Linked DNA regions of Homo sapiens. The protein of the gene in region 1 interacts with the protein of each later gene in a biochemical or structural test. Each region holds a gene or a part of one and is shown in the gene's direction. Other genes may lie near its edges.

Region 1 (8,791 bases):
CAGAGTAATGCTGGTTTCTTAAAATGAGTTAGGAAGTGTTTCCTCCTCTCCTATTTTTGGAAGAGTTTGAGAATGATTGGTGGTAATTTATTTTTAAATGTTTGGTAGAAAACACCGCATGTTCTCACTCATAAGTGGGAGTTGAACAATGAGAACACATTGACGCAGGGAAGTGAACATCACCCACCAGGGCCTGTCAGGTGGTGGGGGCTAGGGAAGGGATAGCATTAGGAGAAATACCTAATGTAGGTGGCGGGTTGATGGGTGCAGGAAACCAGCATGGCACGTGTATACCTATGTAACAAAACTGCACATTCTGCACTGTACCCCAGGACTTAAAATATAATAAAAAAATATAATAAATACAATAAATAAAAGTCTCCAAGAAAGAAAAAAATGTTTGGTAGAATTTACTGTAAAACTATTAGGCCTGGACTTTACTTGTTTGGAGGAGTTTTGATTATTAATTCAATTTCTTTACTTGTTGTAGGTATGTTCAGATTTTCTATTTCTCATTGAGTGAATTAGGTAAATTTTGCGTGCCTGGGAATTTGTCCATATCCTCTAGGTTACCTAATTGGTTGGCAAACAATTGTTCATAGTTTTCTCTCATAGTCCTTTTTATTTCTGTAAGGTAGATAGTAAGGTCCCCACTTTCATTTCTGATTTAAGTTATTTTCATCTTCTTTTTGTTTTAGTTTAGCTAAGGATTCGTCAATTTTATTAATCTTTTCAAAGAACTAACTTTCAGTTTCATTGATTTTCTCTTTTCTGATCTTGGTAATTTCCTCCCTTCTGCTAGTTTTGGGTTTGATTTGTTCTTCTTTTACTAGTTCCTTAAAGGGTAGAGTTGGGATAATGATTTGAGATCTCTCTCTCTCTTTTTTTTTTTTTTTTTTTTGAGATGGAGTCTCACTCTGTCACCCAGGCTGGAGTGCAGTGGCATGATCTTGGCTCACTACAACCTCTGCCTCCTGGGTTCAAGCGATTCTCCTGCCTCAGCCGCCTGAGTAGCTGAGATTACAGGTGCCCGCCATCACGTCGGGCTATTTTTTTTTTTTTTTTTTTTGTATTTTTAGCAGACGGGGTTTCACCGTGTTGGCCAGGCTGGTCTTGAACTCCTAACCTCGTGATCCACCCGCCTCAGCCTCCCAAAGTGCTGGGATTACAGGCATGAGCCACGGCACCAGGCCTCTCTCTTTTTCTCTTTTGTAGCCATGTAGCTATAAATTATCCTTTGAGAACTGTTTTTGCTGCATCCCCTAAGTTTTGGCATGTTGTATCTTTTATTTGTCTCGAAGTATTTTCTAATTTCCCTTGTGATTTCTTCTTTGTCCCACTAGTTGTTTAAGTGTATGTTGTTTAATTTCTGCATATTTGTGAATATTCCAGTTCTCTTTCTGTTATTTATTTCTAGTTTTATTCTATTGTGGTCAAAGAAGATGCTTTGTATGATTTTGATCTGTTTAAATTTATTGAGCAAAATATATCTTCATTTCTCTTGAGAAAATGTCCTTTTTGACTCATGAATTATTTAGAAGCATATTATTTGACATGTGATTTGCAAACATTTTCTCCCAATCTGTAACTTGTCTTTTCATCCCCTTAAAAGGGTCTTTGCAGAGCAAGTTTCAAATTTTGATCAAGTCTGATTTATCATTTTTTAATTTTAAGAATAATGGCTTTGGGGCCAGGCGCAGTGGCTCATGCCTGTAATCCCAGCACTTTGGGAGGCCAAGGCAGGTAGATCACTTGAGGTCAGGAGTTCGAGACCAGCCTGGCCAACATGCTAAAACTCCATCTCTACTAAAAATACAAAAAAAAACTAGCCAAGCGTGGTGGCACATGCCTGTAGTCCCAGCTTGTTGGAAGGCTGAGGCAGGAGAATTGTTTGAGCCCTGGAGGTGGAGGTTGCAGTAAGCTGAGATCACAGCACTGCACTACAGCCTGGCAACAGAGGGAGACTCCGTCTCAAAAAAAAAAAAAAGAAAGAAAAAGAAAAGAAGAAAGAATAATAATGGCTTTGATGTTATGCCTAAGAATTCTTCGCCTAGCCTTAGGTTCTGAAGATTTTCTTCTACATGTTCTACAAGTTTTTTTTTTTTTCAAATGTTTGTGATTTTTTTTTTCAAATGGCAACTCCAAGATAAAGCCAAAGAAACTGGGAATTATTTTTAATATTGTACAATTTTTAGTATGAATAGCCATTCTTATTAAATAGACTCATTTGGCCAGGCAAGGTGGCTCAAGCTCGTAATCCCAACACTTTGGGGGGCCAAGGCATGAGGATTGCTTGAGTTCAGAAGTTCAAGATCAGCCTCAGCAACACAGGGAGACCTCTGTCTCTACTAAAAATAAAAACATTTTAAAGGGCTCATTTAAACTTTTTTCTTTTCTTTTTTTTTTTTTTTTTTTTTGAGACGGAGTCTCACTCTGCCACCCAGGCTGGTGTGCAATGGCGCGATCTCGGCTCACTGCAAGCTCCGCCTCCTGGGTTCACATCGTTCTCCTGCCTCAGCCTCCCGAGTAGCTGGGACTACAGGCACCCGCCACCACATCCGGCTAATTTTTTTTTGTATTTTTAGTAGAGATGGGGTTTCACCGTGTTAGCCAGGATGGTCTTAATCTCCTGACCTCGTGATCCGCCCACCTCGGCCTCCCAAAGTGCTGGGATTACAGGCGTGAGCCACTGCGACCGGCCCTAAACTTTTTTCAAACATTTACATTTTCTCAACAGGAAATGTCCTTTCATTCTGCACAGTTCTCTCTGCTTTCTTCTAAAAGGTTCCTTGTTTTACATTTTACATTTAAATCTCTGATCCATTCAGGCAATTTTTGCATAGAATATGAGGTTTAGGTGAAGTTCATTTTTTTGTTCAGTTACTCCACCACCATTTGAACACCACCTATCTGGCAAAGGATTAATATCTAGAATATTTAAACTCTCAAAACTCAAGTTTTTTAAAAAGAATTCAACTAAAAATGGGCAAAAGACATGGACAGACATTTCACCAATGAGGCTATACAGATGGCAAACAAGCACATGAAAACATGTCCATCATCACCAGGCACTAAAGAAATGCCAATTAAAACCATGATGAGACCAGGCGCAGTGGCTCATGCCTATAATCCCAGCACTTTGGGAGGCCAAGGTGGGTGGATCACCTGAGGTCAGGAGTTCGAGACCAGTCTGGCCAATATGGCGAAACGCTGTCTCTACTAAAAATACAAAAAATAGACAGGTGTGGTGGTGCACGCCTGTAGTCCCAGCTACTTGGGAGGCTGAGGCTGGAGAATCGCTTGAACCCAGGAGGTGGAGGTTGCAGTGAGCTGAGATGGCGCCACTGCACTCCAGCCTGGGCAACAGAGTAAGACTCTATCTCAAAACAAAACAAAACAAAAAACCATGATGATATATCACTATTCACCTGTTAGAATAGCTAAAAATTCAGGCAGGGACAAAATAAAATGCTGCTGAGGATGCAGAGAAACTGAATGTCTTGTACATTGATGGTGGGACAGTAAAAAAAAAAAAAAAGAAAAGAAAAGAAAAAAACTTCCAAAAGGTTATACATTGTATGATTTTGTTTATAGCAGATCAGTATACCCATCCTGCAGCTGCTATGAGTGTTGACAGCTAAACACTCACACAGCTTCCCCCTCGTCCAGAAGAATTGCCCTGGGCAGAAAGGAGGCTGCCTCTTGTTCCAGACCTTCACATTCCAGACCTCCCCATGGAGCCTCCACTGACTACATACTTGTTTCACTTTTTCTTCCTCTGCCCTATCATACCCACCACTCTCCTAAGAGTCTTCCTTCAATAAATCACAGGCACCTGTGTTACTTGTTGAAGGTGTCCAGGTTCTTGGCATCTTGAACAAAGAAATGGGCAAAATGCACAAAGCAAGGAAAGAATGAGGCAACAAAAGCAGAGATGTATTGAAAACAAAGGTACACTCCACAGGGTGGGAGCCAGCGTGAGCATAGGGGCTCAAGAACTCCGTTACAGAATTTTCTGGGATTTAAATACCCTCTAGAGGCTCCCATTGGTTAATTGGTGTACACCCTATGTAAATGAAGAAGATGAAGTGAAGTTGCTCAGTCACTTACTCAGTGAACGCCATATGTAAATGAAGAAAATATTTCCTGTCATAGCTGAAATGTGTCCATTTTATTTAGTTCTAAGAAGTCAGCGTGAATCAGCTTTATGTTCCCTGCCTGCAGACCCTATTCTCCTGCCTCACCTCAATCTCTTCACCTAAGACAGGAAGAAAACTGATGATGCAGGAGACGAAGAACAATAGCAAGGCGAAGAAATGAATCTCCAAGGCCGGCTTCAAGCGATTCTCCCCTCTCAGGCTCCCGAGTAGCTGGGATTACAGGCATGCACCACCACGCCTGGCTAATTTTTGTATTTTTAGTAGAGACAGGGTTTCCCCATGTTGGCCAGGATGGTCTTGAACTCCTGACCTCAGGTGATCTGGCCACCTCCGCCTCCCAAAGTGCTGGAATTACAGGCATGAGCCACCACACCCAGCTCCCAGTTCTGTTCTTTTAGAGGCAAATAGTCTGTTGAGTAAATGCATAACACTACTTAGACTTTCTAGCTGAAGATGTAGTTAATCTTAAGAAAACCTGACTCACACTGTAACAGGATGTTCTGCAATGACCTTAGAAGAGGAAGTGACTTTTTTCCCACTTTGGTGTCTCTTCCCTCGTACCCTCCCCACCCCGCCAATATTATCCAGCACAGAGAAGCAAACACCAGAAGCTTCTCTCCAACTTTCAGTTTTTCTCTAAACTTCCAGTCCTTCTCATACTGTGTCCTGGTTATAATAGTTGCTGGGACCTTATTCTATTCTGAATCCCCAGCCCCTAAAGAAGGCTTGGTACTGACGTGTACAGCGTAGTTACCCAGTGACTTTGGGGAAGGCAGGAAGAGTGTGGAAAGGACAGGAGGAAGGAAGGGAGGGGCCGTGGCTCCGAGCTGCCTAGAAAGCGGCTCCAGGGAGCCAGGGCACCGTGAGCCTGGTGGTTGGCAGCTGGAGCCACGTCGGAGGGGGAAGTGTCGCAGCATTCTCTGCAGGCATCACAGACCTGAGGCAGTGGCCTCCGGAGGGCACTGGACAGAAACAGCCATCCAAGTGGCTGAGTGGAGGGACCCTGCTCAAGTGCAGCTGCAGTGGCCGGGGTTTCCCTCAGGTAGGGATCGGGGCGCCTTGTCGCCGCCAGCCACGTGTGGCGTCCGGTACAGTCAGCAGAGTGCAGGGTGCGGGCACCAGGAAAGGGGGCGCAGGGGAACTCCCGCGGGCCTCGCGTTTGCAAACTTCTCGCCTGGGCAGGAGGCGGTCGTGGGAAAGAAGGTGGAAGAGCGAGCTTTTTGGAACTGTGCACGGGACAGATTGGACGCACACCCCTCGGGAGGCGCGAAGGTGAGCATGGGGTCTTCCCAGGAGGCGGCGGGGCCGAGGGGCTGCAGCCGAATTCCTGGACGGTGATGGGAAGAACCAGGGGTGAGGGTGGCCCGGTCCGAGTTCCTGGAACTCAGGACCGAGTTGGTTTCATTTCCTCAGCTCTGATGGTGGAGCTGCCTGCTCGGATCTCGCACTACCTTCCGCCAAAGCGAGACGCCCAGTAGCAGTGGGGGTCGTGGAGGGCAGGGGCACGGGAACAAGTTACCTGATGTCTTCTCAGAAAAAGGAAGTCTTCAGGTTTGCAGGCTGAAGGCGTGAGAGAGAGACAGAGTGAGAGAGAGAGAAGAGGGAAATGCCTGATAACCTTTACTTATTTTATTTTATTTTTATTTTTTATTTTTTGGAGGGAAGAGGTGAATTTGCATTGTTATTACCATTTAAAGATTTTTCACTTTTAAAATTAGTAACCTGTTTTCTCATCGTAACATATGAACATAATCCCCTTTTTCTTTTTATTTATTTATTTTGAGAGATGGAGTCTTCCTCTGTTGCCCAGGCTGGAGCGCAGTGGCACAATCATAGCTCACTGCAGCCTCCGAACTCATGGGCTCAAGTGATCCTCCAACCAGATCCTCCCAAGTAGCTAGGACTACAAGGTGCACATCACCACACCCAATTAAATTTTTTTTGTATTTTTTGGTAGAGCCAGGGTCTCGCTTTGTCACCCAGGCTGGTCTCAAACTCCTGGGCTCAGGTGATCCTCCTACCTCACCCTCCCAAAGTGCTGGGATTACAGGTGTGAGCCACTGCAGCTGGCCTGAACATATTCTTAGCTGTTTGTTTTACATATTATAAATAGCACTGCAGTGAACATCTCGGTAGCCATCTATCTACAAACACAAGCTTTTCTACATCATAAGTTCCTAGAAATTCAAATTGCCCAGTCTAAGTGTGTATATATGTATATTCCCTTTCTTCCCTTGTAGATCATATACTTAATAAGACCTTAAACAATTTAAGTTATTGTAGGGTGCTTTTTCCCAATATTTTGCAGTTTTTAATATATTTTAATTTCATACAGGCAAGTCCCCTTTTCTTTATTTTTTAAAATCCTGGTTATCCCTACTAATTTCCCATTTCAAATGAACTTTAGGATCATTTTGATTTAATGCCAAAATATGTCAGTAGATGTTTTATTGGAACTGCATTAAATTGGATTTAAATTTGGGAAGGATTGCTGGGTTGGTCTGTTTTAGTCTTCCCAGCCAGAAATATAACACTTCTCTTTCCTCCTTTCTTCAAGCTTTGTTTTGTGCAATTTTCTTTCTTTCTTTTTTTTTGTTTTTGTTTTTGTTTTTGAGACGGAGTTTTGCTCTGTTGCCCAGGTTGGAGCACAGTGGTGTGATCTCGGCTCAGTGCAACCTCCACCTCCCGGGTTCAAGCAATTCTCCTGCCTCAGCCTCCCGAGTAGCTGGGATTACAGGCGCCTGCTACCATGCTTGGCTAATTTTAGTATTTTTAGTAGAGATGGGGTTTCACCATGTTGGCCGGGCGATCTCAAACTCCCGACCTCAGGTGATCCACCTGCCTCGGCCTTCCAAAGCGCTGAGATTACAGGCATGAGCCAATGTGACCGCTGCAATTTTCTTCATACCATGCCACCACTGTATAATTTATTATTTGAAATTGTTTGTCAGTTCTATGGGTGGGATATTTTCCCCATTTTCCTTTCTGATTAGTTCAGTGCTGAGATATGGCTTTCTGATGAGGCTGCTGGTAAGATAACTGGAGCTTAGAGCTAGGAAGCTACAATTTGCAAGATTCCTTGAACAACATTGCCACATTTGCTTCTGTTTCTGGTGCAACAGAGAAAGTGTAAAACCTTTTGCCCTCACAATTCCCAAGAAATGGCCTTGAAGATATCTGCTTAGCACGTGGGAATAGCTGGGTAGTCTGAGATCCACTAGTCTTTTTAGGAGTGCCCTAATAACTGTTACCTCCCTTGCCCAATCACTGTAACTCTCAGGCAACAAAAACACAACTATATCGATTGCTCATTTATTTAGTTTCACTTCTGCCAGTGCCTTACTCATGTTTTAAAGCCATACTTGGGCTCCAGGCCAATTATTTTCTCCAAGCTGCTAATTAATCCATAAACTGGCGATAATACTTAACCTACCTATTTCACTGAGCTGTTAAAAAAAAAAAAACTAACTTTGTTTTTTGTTGTCGTTTGTTAGTGGTGGTGGTGGTGGTGTTTTTGAGACACTGTCTCATTCTGTTGCCCATGCTGGAATGGAGTCAGTGGCACAATCATGGCTCACTGCAGCCTCGACCTCCCAGCCTCAATCAATTCTCCCTCCTCAGGCTCCAGAGTAGCTGGGACTACAGGCAAGCACCACCACATCCAGCAAATTTTTGTATTTTTTTGTAGAGACAGGGTTTCACCATGTTGCCCAGGCTGGTCTCGAACTCAGGCTCATACGATCCCCTGGCCTCAGCCTCACAAAGTGCTGGGATTACAGGTTTGAGTCATGACACCCTACCCTAACTTTATTTTAAATACTTTGAAAACTGGTTCCATGGCCTTGTGATTATTTGAATGCAACCTCCCTGAACCGCAGCATCTTCACTTTTCACCTGTTTGTTTTTTCGAGACAGGGTCTCTCTGTTTCCCTGGCTGGAGTGCAGTGGTGTCATCATAGCTCACTGCAGCCTCAACCTCCCAGGCTCAAGCGATTCTCCCGCCTCAGCCTCCTGAGTAGCTGGGACTACAGGTCCCAGCTAATTTTTGTATTTTTAGTAGAGATGGGTCTCGCTGTGTTGCCCAGAATGGAACTCCTGGCCTCAAGCAATCTTCCCACCTCTACCTCCCAAAATGTTGGGATTACGGGTATGAACTACTGTGCCCAGATGGTATCTTCATCTGTTAAATGAAAATAACCATGGAGAGCTGGGGGTTCCAAAGCACTTAGGATGTAGTAGGTGAATTGAGAGATCTAGTGTCATAATTATTATCATCATTCATTGCTGAACGCAGTCGGCTTCAGTTGCAAATAAAGCAAACATGATTCAAACTGCCTTAAACAATCAGGGAGGTTATTGGTTCATGAAACCTGCAGTTAGGGGATGGGGTACACTTCATGTCAGTTCAAACCAGTGGCTCAATGTTGTCATCAAAGACTCAGATTCTTTCTCCCTTTCCATTCTACCATGCTCAGGTTAGCCTCATTCCAAGCTTTAGGATCAGGGCTCTGTGCTTCCTCACTCATGTTCAGAGAAGAGAGAGAGGTTAAGAGTAGGAAGCTGGCACTGCAGCCTCAACCTCCTGGACTCAAGGAATCCTCCTATCTCAACTTCCCAGGTAGCTGAGACTA
Region 2 (8,971 bases), about 24 Mb from region 1:
AAATCAGTACTCTAACCTTCTTTATGGTTGAATAATATTCCAATAAATGGATCTGCCGTATTTTGTTTAGCCATTTTTCAGTCGATGGACGTCAGTTTCTAGTTTTTGACTATTATTAAAAATGCTGCTGTGAACATTCATATACAAGTTATTCTGTGGACATCTGTTTTCAGTTCTGTTGGGTACTCCCTAGGAGTAGAATTGCTGGGTCATGTGGTGACTGTGTGTTTAGTCATTTGTGGAACTGCCAAATGGTTTTCTGAAGGAGCTGCACCATTTACTTTTCCAGCCACAATGTATGAGGGTTCTAATTTCTTTGCATCCTTGTTCTCTGTTTTCCAAAAAGTTTCATAGATTTACTTTTTACATTTAAGTCTATAATCTATTTTGAGTTAATTTGGTATAAGTTGTGAGACTTAAGTAGAATTTTTTTTTAAAAAATCTATGGATATCTAATTGTTCCATCACTATTTGTTGAAAAGACTCTTTCTTCCATTGAATTATTTTTCTACCTTTGTCAAAATTCAGTTGGGTATATTTATGTGGGTCTATTTCTTGGTTCTCCATTCTGTTCCATTGATCTGTGTGTCTGTCCTACTGCCCATACCACAGTCTCGATCACTGCGGCTAACTAGTAAGTCTTGCAATCTATTAAACTAATTCCTCCTACTTTATTCTTTTCCAAAATTATTTTAGTTATTCTAGATCTTTTGCCTTTCCATATGCATTTTAGAGTAATCTTGTGTACATCTATACAAAATCTTCTTGAGATTTTGATAGGAATTACATTAAACCTGTATATAACTTTGGGGAGAATTGATATCCTTTGGCTAGAGAGAGCAAAACTTTGGTTGGGGCCTTCTTTTGTCTATGCCTATTGATGTTTCCAGGGTGCTGATTTTTTTATCTCTAAGTATGGGATAAGAATGTAGTCAAGAAGAAAACCCAGAGGGAAATCTCTGTGATGTTATTTCTTAGGTCTTGAGGTTCCTAGCTGGTCTACCTTCTCATCTCTACCTTTCAAAGTCTTCTTATATTTGTTTTATATATTATGTCTAGAGATTTTAGTTGTACTTAGCAAAAGAAATAGGAAGTACATCTACTTTATCTTCCCAGAAGTAGAAGTTGCACCTTCCTTTTTAACTTAACAATAGATATTAGAGATTATTTCATATTAGTACATAAGTTGTATACTTGGTCTTTTGTTTAAATCATTGAATTATATTTCATTTTATGCATGTACCATAATTTTTGAACCAGCCTCCTACTGATGAGCATTTAGGTTGTTTTCAATCTTTTGCTGTTATAAACAGTGCTTCAGTGAATAACTTTGTATCTGTGTATCAGTTAGCATGTGTGCCAGTATAAAAAGATAACTTCCTAGGAGTAGAATTGCTATGCATTTTACATTTTGATAGACAGTAATACATGGCTTTCATAGAGATTGCTTGTCAATCGGAGTCACCATGAATGTTGCCTGTATAGGCAGTACTCCTGGTCCTATGAGACAGTTAGAGCTGGAGCCCTGAAGAAGGATAATTTGAAGCACCAGATATCAGCATGCAACTTTTGGTGTTATCTATATGGCACCTTCAAGCATTTCTTGAAGAATTTTTCATATACTATTATGGAAAATATTTATTCTGAGCAGGAACCCAACCTTTTAGAGATTTTTGAATAGTTGCTATGTAGGATATTTCTGGCATCGGGTTTAATAATACCTCATTCTACTCAAGTAAACTGTATTTTCTTCACAAGATTTCTGTGGATGTTAAATTCTCATTTGAGTCTGAATTATGCTCTTGTGGCTGCTGATGTTAAGCGGTACATTAATTAAACAATTTCTCTTAATTTACTGGGTCATTCAAATTCATAGACATTTCATTTGATTTGAACAATAACTTGTTCACTAGTTTATTGTTATGATTTCCTGCTCAAGATTCTCCAAGGGATTTTTCTTTTTCTGGTTAAATCAACAAGTGATGGATAAGCTGTGAATTTTATCATTTAAATGCAATCTTGCTGTGTATACATAATGGATACTTTTGGTTTGGTTTCTTTTGCTGAACACAATGTCCATGTTGCCCTGTTTATCAGTAGTTTGTTCCTTTTTTATTGCTATGTAGTATTCCATTGTATGAATAGACCATAATTTGTTTCTCTATTCTTCTGTAGAATAGCTTGTTTCCAGCTTTTGATTAGAATGAATAGGGCTGCTCTGTACATTTTTACTCATGCTGTTTGGTGGAATTATCTTCTATATCTTTTAATATCTTTAATCAGGTTTGTTTTAATCACACAAAATTGCCAGCTGAATTTATCTTACCTTGCTTTCCATCCCATATTTATCTTTTTCTGAGTTGGTAATCACTTATAATTCATTTAACTTTGAAAGCTTTGCTTCATGACCCAAGTAGTTTTGGGCCATGAACACAGTTGTGACAAAGTAATAAGAAATATTTGGTGTGTAATTGCTGGAGGGCAATTAGAGGTGGTTTGTGCCCCTTTGTCTGTATAGAATTCTGATGGAATGTCTTCTTCTTCAGAGCTGATATTTGACCCCCTCTCAGACAGCCTTTGACAGAAGGTAGCCACAGTTTCCAACTCCAGTGCCCCCCTGCTCACATTCCTAATCTTTGGAGCTCCTCCCTAGTGTCACCTGCAGAACTGTCACCACCGGCCATCCAGTTGGCTCTCCAGTCCTGCCAGGCTACCTTCAAAGCCTAACAAAGGGAAGAGCACTTGCTTCATTTGTTATAATGGTTACTAACTATATAATGGATCTATATCGTGGTATACATGTGAACATACTTTAAAAATGTTATATGCAGTTAATTACAGTTAATAGTGGGAGTTGTTTTTCTTTAGGAAATTTATATGCTATAATTTAGGAACTCTTCTCAGTGACTAAGATTTTCCTTCTGAAGTATCTGTCATGGGTGCTATTTAAAGATATCTGAATGACAACATCATAAAAGAACAGTGGTCTCCTCTTTCATCAAGGGATACTTCCAAGACCCCCAGTGGATACCTGAAACTATGGATAGTACTGAACCCTACGTATACTGTGTTTTTCCTCTACATTCATGCCTCTGATAAAGTTTAATTTATATATTAGGCACAATAAGATATTGAAAACAATAATCAGAGAAGAGACAATAATAACAATATGGCAACATCACTACTCGTGTACTTCAGGACTATTATTAAGTAAAATAAGGGTGACTTGAATGTAAGCACTGTGATACTGCAATAGTTGATCTGATGACTGAGGTGGCTACTAAGTGACTAACAAGGCAGGGAGTAGACACAGTGTGGAGATGCTGGACGGGGATGGGTTACGTCAGGGGTTATGGATTAGGATGGTGCAAGATTTCGTTATAATACTCAAAACAGCATGCAACTTAAAACTTACGAATTGTCTGTTTCTGCAATTTTTTATTTAATATTTTTGGACAGTGGTTGACTGTGGGTAACTGATACCGTGGAAGGTAAAAGTGTGGATAAGTGGGGACCACAGTATTAGTACATAGCTTTTCTCTTATTATATCACTTGATCGAAATCGTGGTTAATTGGTATAATTTTTGAATTAAAATATTTTCATATTCTATTGGATCATATTATGAGATGTTTAAGATATAGTTTAATAACACATCCCCCTCCTCTTTCAACCATGGAAAAAAGTTACCAAGTATTTACATATAATTCATTTAGTAAATTTCCTCTTTTTTTAAGAAAAGTCTTTTCCTTGTGTTTAAAATGTAAAAATTTTCCTATTTCTTTCTTTCTGTCCTCAAATCCACTGTGGGTGATATCGTTTTTGCTGACACACAGCTTTATCAGGTATGACTCCTAAGTGTCGTGTTGGACTCCACGGATGTATTGTTGAATTTTTCAAAGGAAGAACTTTTCACACTGCCTCTTCTACATTCCCTTGATCAGTATTTAGGAGTATTCTATGATCATTGCTGGGCTTTAAGGTCTAGAGTGGTCTTTGTATTCAAAACAAGTTTGCCACACTTATTACACCTATATTTCAGAAATAATTGTGAGTGTTTTCTTCAAATATATTATTGTTGTGTGTCTCTGGCTTTCTGTATTTTTAATCTATGCATAATTCTCTATGTTTTCCTCTTTTATATGTATAAGTGTTTGTATACACATCTGTGTTATTCTTAACATATATGTTTTTAAAAACAGATATATGTTCTTAACCAGAACTTTCTTTCCTAACCATGATACATATTCCTAACCAGGCTTTTTTCAAACTGTGTTCATGAAATAATATTAATCTGAGATGCTAAGCAAAGTGGCACAAAAATTTTTATCAATAAGTTTATTTTGTTTCTCCCTGAGCAGTTCACAATGCACATTAGCATATTAAAGGCTCTGGTTCCGTGCAGTAAAGAAATTGTTTATCTTTGTTTATCTCAGCATCTTCAAGAAATATTTGAGTTCGAAACACTTCATAATACACAGGGGTGTTCTAAGCCTGCTGATTTGGGAAATGCTGTAAAAAACCGAGTAAGATTTTCTTTGTAGTGTTTTAAGAGATCAAATAAAATTGACTACAAGTGATTAAATTTTCAAGAGGTTAAAGCATTTAGCTGAATTGTATTTTGAGAGGGTATTTTCTTATAGAAATTACATTTTGAAATACAGCATTGGTTTTTTCCCCCATAGTATTATCTTTTTCAATACTTTTGATGGCCTTTAAAAGGCATTTGTAAAACTAAAAATTCTGCCTTTTTGTGGAAAGAGGGTTTTTTTATTTTGTTACTGTCATTCCTTGTTTCTCTTCTATAAGAATTTGCCTTTATCTTTAAAAAACATGCTTACTGTTTCAGAGAGTGTGACGCAGGAAAGGAGGCCTCCCAAACTTGCCTTTATGTCAAGAGGTGTTGGGGACAAAGGTTCATCCAGTCATAATAAACCAAAGGCTACAGGTATGGATTAATAGCATATAACCTTTAGTAATTTGCATAATGCCTAACTTGCCATAGCATTAAAAAAGATTATAAGCTATTACTTCTGAACATGTATGTAGACTTTTTTTCTTTCAAACATTTTTAGTAGTGAAACTAAAGTTTGTATATAAATACTGTTGCTTAAGCCAAGTGTTCCCAGCCTTTTTTACCTCAGGAAGAGTTCCCCATAGGGTCTTGTGTGTTTTGCTGGTCTATAATCAAATGGTTTTTGGAACTCCTTACTTGGAATATTTGTATGTATAGTTTAGGATTGCAACTGTGTAAAATAATCCTATATGGATAATGTTATATAGGATAAAGTATACTAGAGGTTAATTAAATGGATTTTGCTAACTAGATTTGGTACAAATTAAATCCCAAACTGCTAAGCAAAAATTTCTTCTCTTTCCCAGAAGCTTCCTCACAATATGTGTGGAGCTTACAGCTCTTTTTTTTGTTAGCTTCCACATACTTCATAGATTTATAGAATAGTAGTTATACAAGCCAAAGAGCTCATTAAAAAGGCTCTGAGAATTTTTGTTAACTCAGATGCGAGTTAGGAAAAGAATATTTTTTCCTCAATTATTACAATTTTGGCTCATTTAAAAGGAAATTGTACTTTAAGAATTATTTTATGTGACATTGGGGCCTGGGAGACTTAGGATTAATTGCAGGATATATAGGTAACAGTCTTTTTTATGTTAACCTATAGATCTATATAGGATAGCTCAAACTTGCTACTCTCACTTAAATAGAAACAGACTAAAGATTTTCTTAAGCTATGGCATGTTAATTGTATTGTAGTAGATCTTAAAGTTATAAAATGTACAGCTACCTGCTTTAATTTGAAAAGGGAAATCAGCTTTTTTGTGGGTTCTGGAGAGCCCACTGCCCTCCACTGTGTGTGGTATGTCCTTGAATTAATACTGAGGCAGGGTAATGTCATGAAATGGCTGTGGCATAGCTACACTCGCCCTCTCACGTATAATAAATCCAATCTGTAAGAAATAATAGTGCTTGATTTTTTCAAAGACACAAGGAATTTGATGACCAAAAATTCCAAAATGTTTAAAACTTAACTATTTTTAAATGTAATTTGTGTATTGATTTATATATAGAATTTGAGGATTACCTTCTTTTAAAATAATAGGTTAAATTTGTGAACCAATGGGTCTATGAAATGAAGCTGGAGAATGGTGATTTTGACATTTAGAAATAAGCTGTGGTACATGGAACAATTTCTTAAAGCAGTTCATTTTTTTTAAAAATGAGTGGGCTTTTCTTTTAACTTACTCCTGTTTCCCTCCTATCTTGACTTTTGGGCTGAAAAATATTTTTAATATTGTCAAAATGGTTACCAAATTTTTAAAAGCTGAAGACAGTTAAAAAACATATTGTGTTTATATACATTTATTGGTTATGTAAACAGTTATTAACATCATATTCATAATAATTTCTCTTACTAAAAAAAAACTTTGATGCTATATTGACTTTATTTTTAAATGAAACTTTTCTTGTTCCTATAGGATCTACCTCAGACCCTGGAAATAGAAACAGATCTGAATTATTTTATACCTTAAATGGGTCTTCTGTTGACTCACAACCACAATCCAAATCAAAAAATACATGGTACATTGATGAAGGTAATCAGTAATTTTAGTGTTCTTTATAATGATCCTTTCTTTCTAACTCATCAGAGAAAAATGGTTTTTTATATCAATATTTGTAGTTTTTGGAAACAGAATAAGTAGACCGCTCTTTGTAATATTGCTGAACTAAAATATTGTACACAGTTTGAACCGTACTGCTGTTAAGATTATTAAAATGTTTAAGAAATGTATTAGTAATTTGTTCTTTTCCTTTAACTGCTGATCTATTTAGGGTGGAAGATTTCTGTCTGGTTCCTTCCTGACCTCTTTAAAGCACTCCCTTTTAAAAAATTTTATCTTCCCTTGGTCCTGGGACATCATTTTCACCTAGTTTATTCTCTTCTTTGTTCATTTGTTCAACAAATATTTATTGAGTGCTTATGATTGCCAGGCATTCTTTTAGGCATCAAGATGAAAATGGTGAGAAAAAATAGACATGGTTCATGCCCTTTGTGAGTTTGCAGTTGTTAAGTTGTTGAGATAGAAATTAGTCAAACAACCACAGACACAGTAGAGTTGCCTTGGTGGTGTGTGCAGTGAAGGTGCATGATGCTGTGAGAATACACCAAAGATGATTTTTCTCAGGGTCTTAGGGGTGTTTCTTTGGGGCAGTGACACATGCTTAGGTTTACCAGAGGAGTGACAGATGACAAAGTGAAAGGGGCTAGAACTTCCTCGGGAGAAGAAATAGCATAGGGAAAGTCCTCCTGGAAGAATGGAAGCTAGTGTTTGCCAGGGACTAGAACACAGACAGAGGCATGACATTCATGAGATGAGAATGGAAAGGCAAACAGGCCTGACTCTGTGGTCTCCCAGCCTTTAGAGTTTTGCCTGCCACATTTGTTTTTAAGGCACCTGGAGCTGATTTTCATGTAAAGTATGAGTAGGATTCCTGTTTAATTTTTTTTTAAAAATATGGATAACCAATTATCTCAACAGCATTTAGTAAGAAGTTCATTCTTTTGTCATTGATCTGCAATACCTGCCTGTCAGCTGTATTAGTCATTTTAAGAAAATAGCTTTTGGCTGTGGCTCTCTTTATCATGTGTTTGGTTTCTCTTAAATTACATTCTGTGTTTGTGTTTATTCTGGCTTTGAACTTCTTATTGTATGTTTGTTTTCTCTCTTCTGTTGTTTCTGTTCTTTAGTTTATTCTTCTCTACTTTTTTGAGGGTTATTCTGTTCTTTTAACTTCCCAAGTTGTATGCTGAGTTCATATTTAGCTTTTGTTTTTTTCTGAAATAAGCAATGAAGTCTATAAAATTCCCTTATAAGTATTAATTTAGCCATGTTTCACAAGGATTCTTTCTTTCTTTGTTACTTTTTCTCTCTTTTTTCTTTATTGTTAAAACGTATTATTTCTTTTTTGATCCATTAGATATATAGAAGCGTTTCTTAAGGTTTTCGGTATCTTTTTGTACTGCCTTCTCAATTAATTGTATTTTGGACAAAGACTATCACGTATACGATACCCGCTGATAATAGATTTTTTTGGTTTGAACAGTTGGGTGCCATTGACTGAGGTGCATAAATATGGAGGTGGAGAGAGGAGCGAGAACACTGTTGGAGATAATAACTTTGTGATGCCTATGAGAGTACTATTAATAGCAGGGAGGTCAGGTGGGCAGTTGGACTAGATCTGTATATAAATTTTTAGAAATGTAAGACAGAGTCAATATCCTTGAATACATTTCTGTAATTAGGAATAATTTTTTAGTTGCAGAAGACCCTGCAAAATCTCTTACAGAGATATCTACAGACTTTGACCGTTCTTCACCACCACTCCAGCCTCCTCCTGTGAACTCACTGACCACCGAGAACAGATTCCACTCTTTACCATTCAGTCTCACCAAGATGCCCAATACCAATGGAAGTATTGGCCACAGTCCACTTTCTCTGTCAGCCCAGTCTGTAATGGAAGAGCTAAACACTGCACCCGTCCAAGAGAGTCCACCCTTGGCCATGCCTCCTGGGAACTCACATGGTCTAGAAGTGGGCTCATTGGCTGAAGTTAAGGAGAACCCTCCTTTCTATGGGGTAATCCGTTGGATCGGTCAGCCACCAGGACTGAATGAAGTGCTCGCTGGACTGGAACTGGTAATTTAACTTGACCCAAAAATTTCAATTTTTTTCTCTGTGAGGTTTTGTGCAGATTTCGCCCTATTATATGCTTTTTGACAAACTGTTATATTTGTCAGAAAAGCTATCACTGCAGAATAATTTTCTCACCATGTTTTCTGACTTCCCTTTGCCGCCCCTGAAGCTTGCGACCCACTTGTCCTAATGTTAGTTGATTTATGTTCAAGGAATGAAAGTTGATTTTTAGGCCAATCGATTTAGGCTCCTTATATTAA

The links.
Region 2: of the proteins of MLKL (region 1) and CYLD, one has a biochemical effect on the other in vitro, tested with the Homo sapiens proteins (one study listed by BioGRID).

What each region holds. Positions count from the first base shown.
Region 1 is NC_000016.10:74,697,094-74,705,884, reverse strand, and holds the start of MLKL (mixed lineage kinase domain-like protein), read left to right. Parts: upstream 1-5,022; 5' UTR 5,023-5,432; intron 5,433-8,791. UniProt on the Homo sapiens protein: Pseudokinase that plays a key role in TNF-induced necroptosis, a programmed cell death process. Does not have protein kinase activity.
Region 2 is NC_000016.10:50,771,331-50,780,301, forward strand, and holds part of CYLD (ubiquitin carboxyl-terminal hydrolase CYLD), read left to right. Parts: intron 1-3,835; coding exon 3,836-3,844; intron 3,845-4,848; coding exon 4,849-4,947; intron 4,948-6,494; coding exon 6,495-6,611; intron 6,612-8,334; coding exon 8,335-8,714; intron 8,715-8,971. UniProt on the Homo sapiens protein: Deubiquitinase that specifically cleaves 'Lys-63'- and linear 'Met-1'-linked polyubiquitin chains and is involved in NF-kappa-B activation and TNF-alpha-induced necroptosis.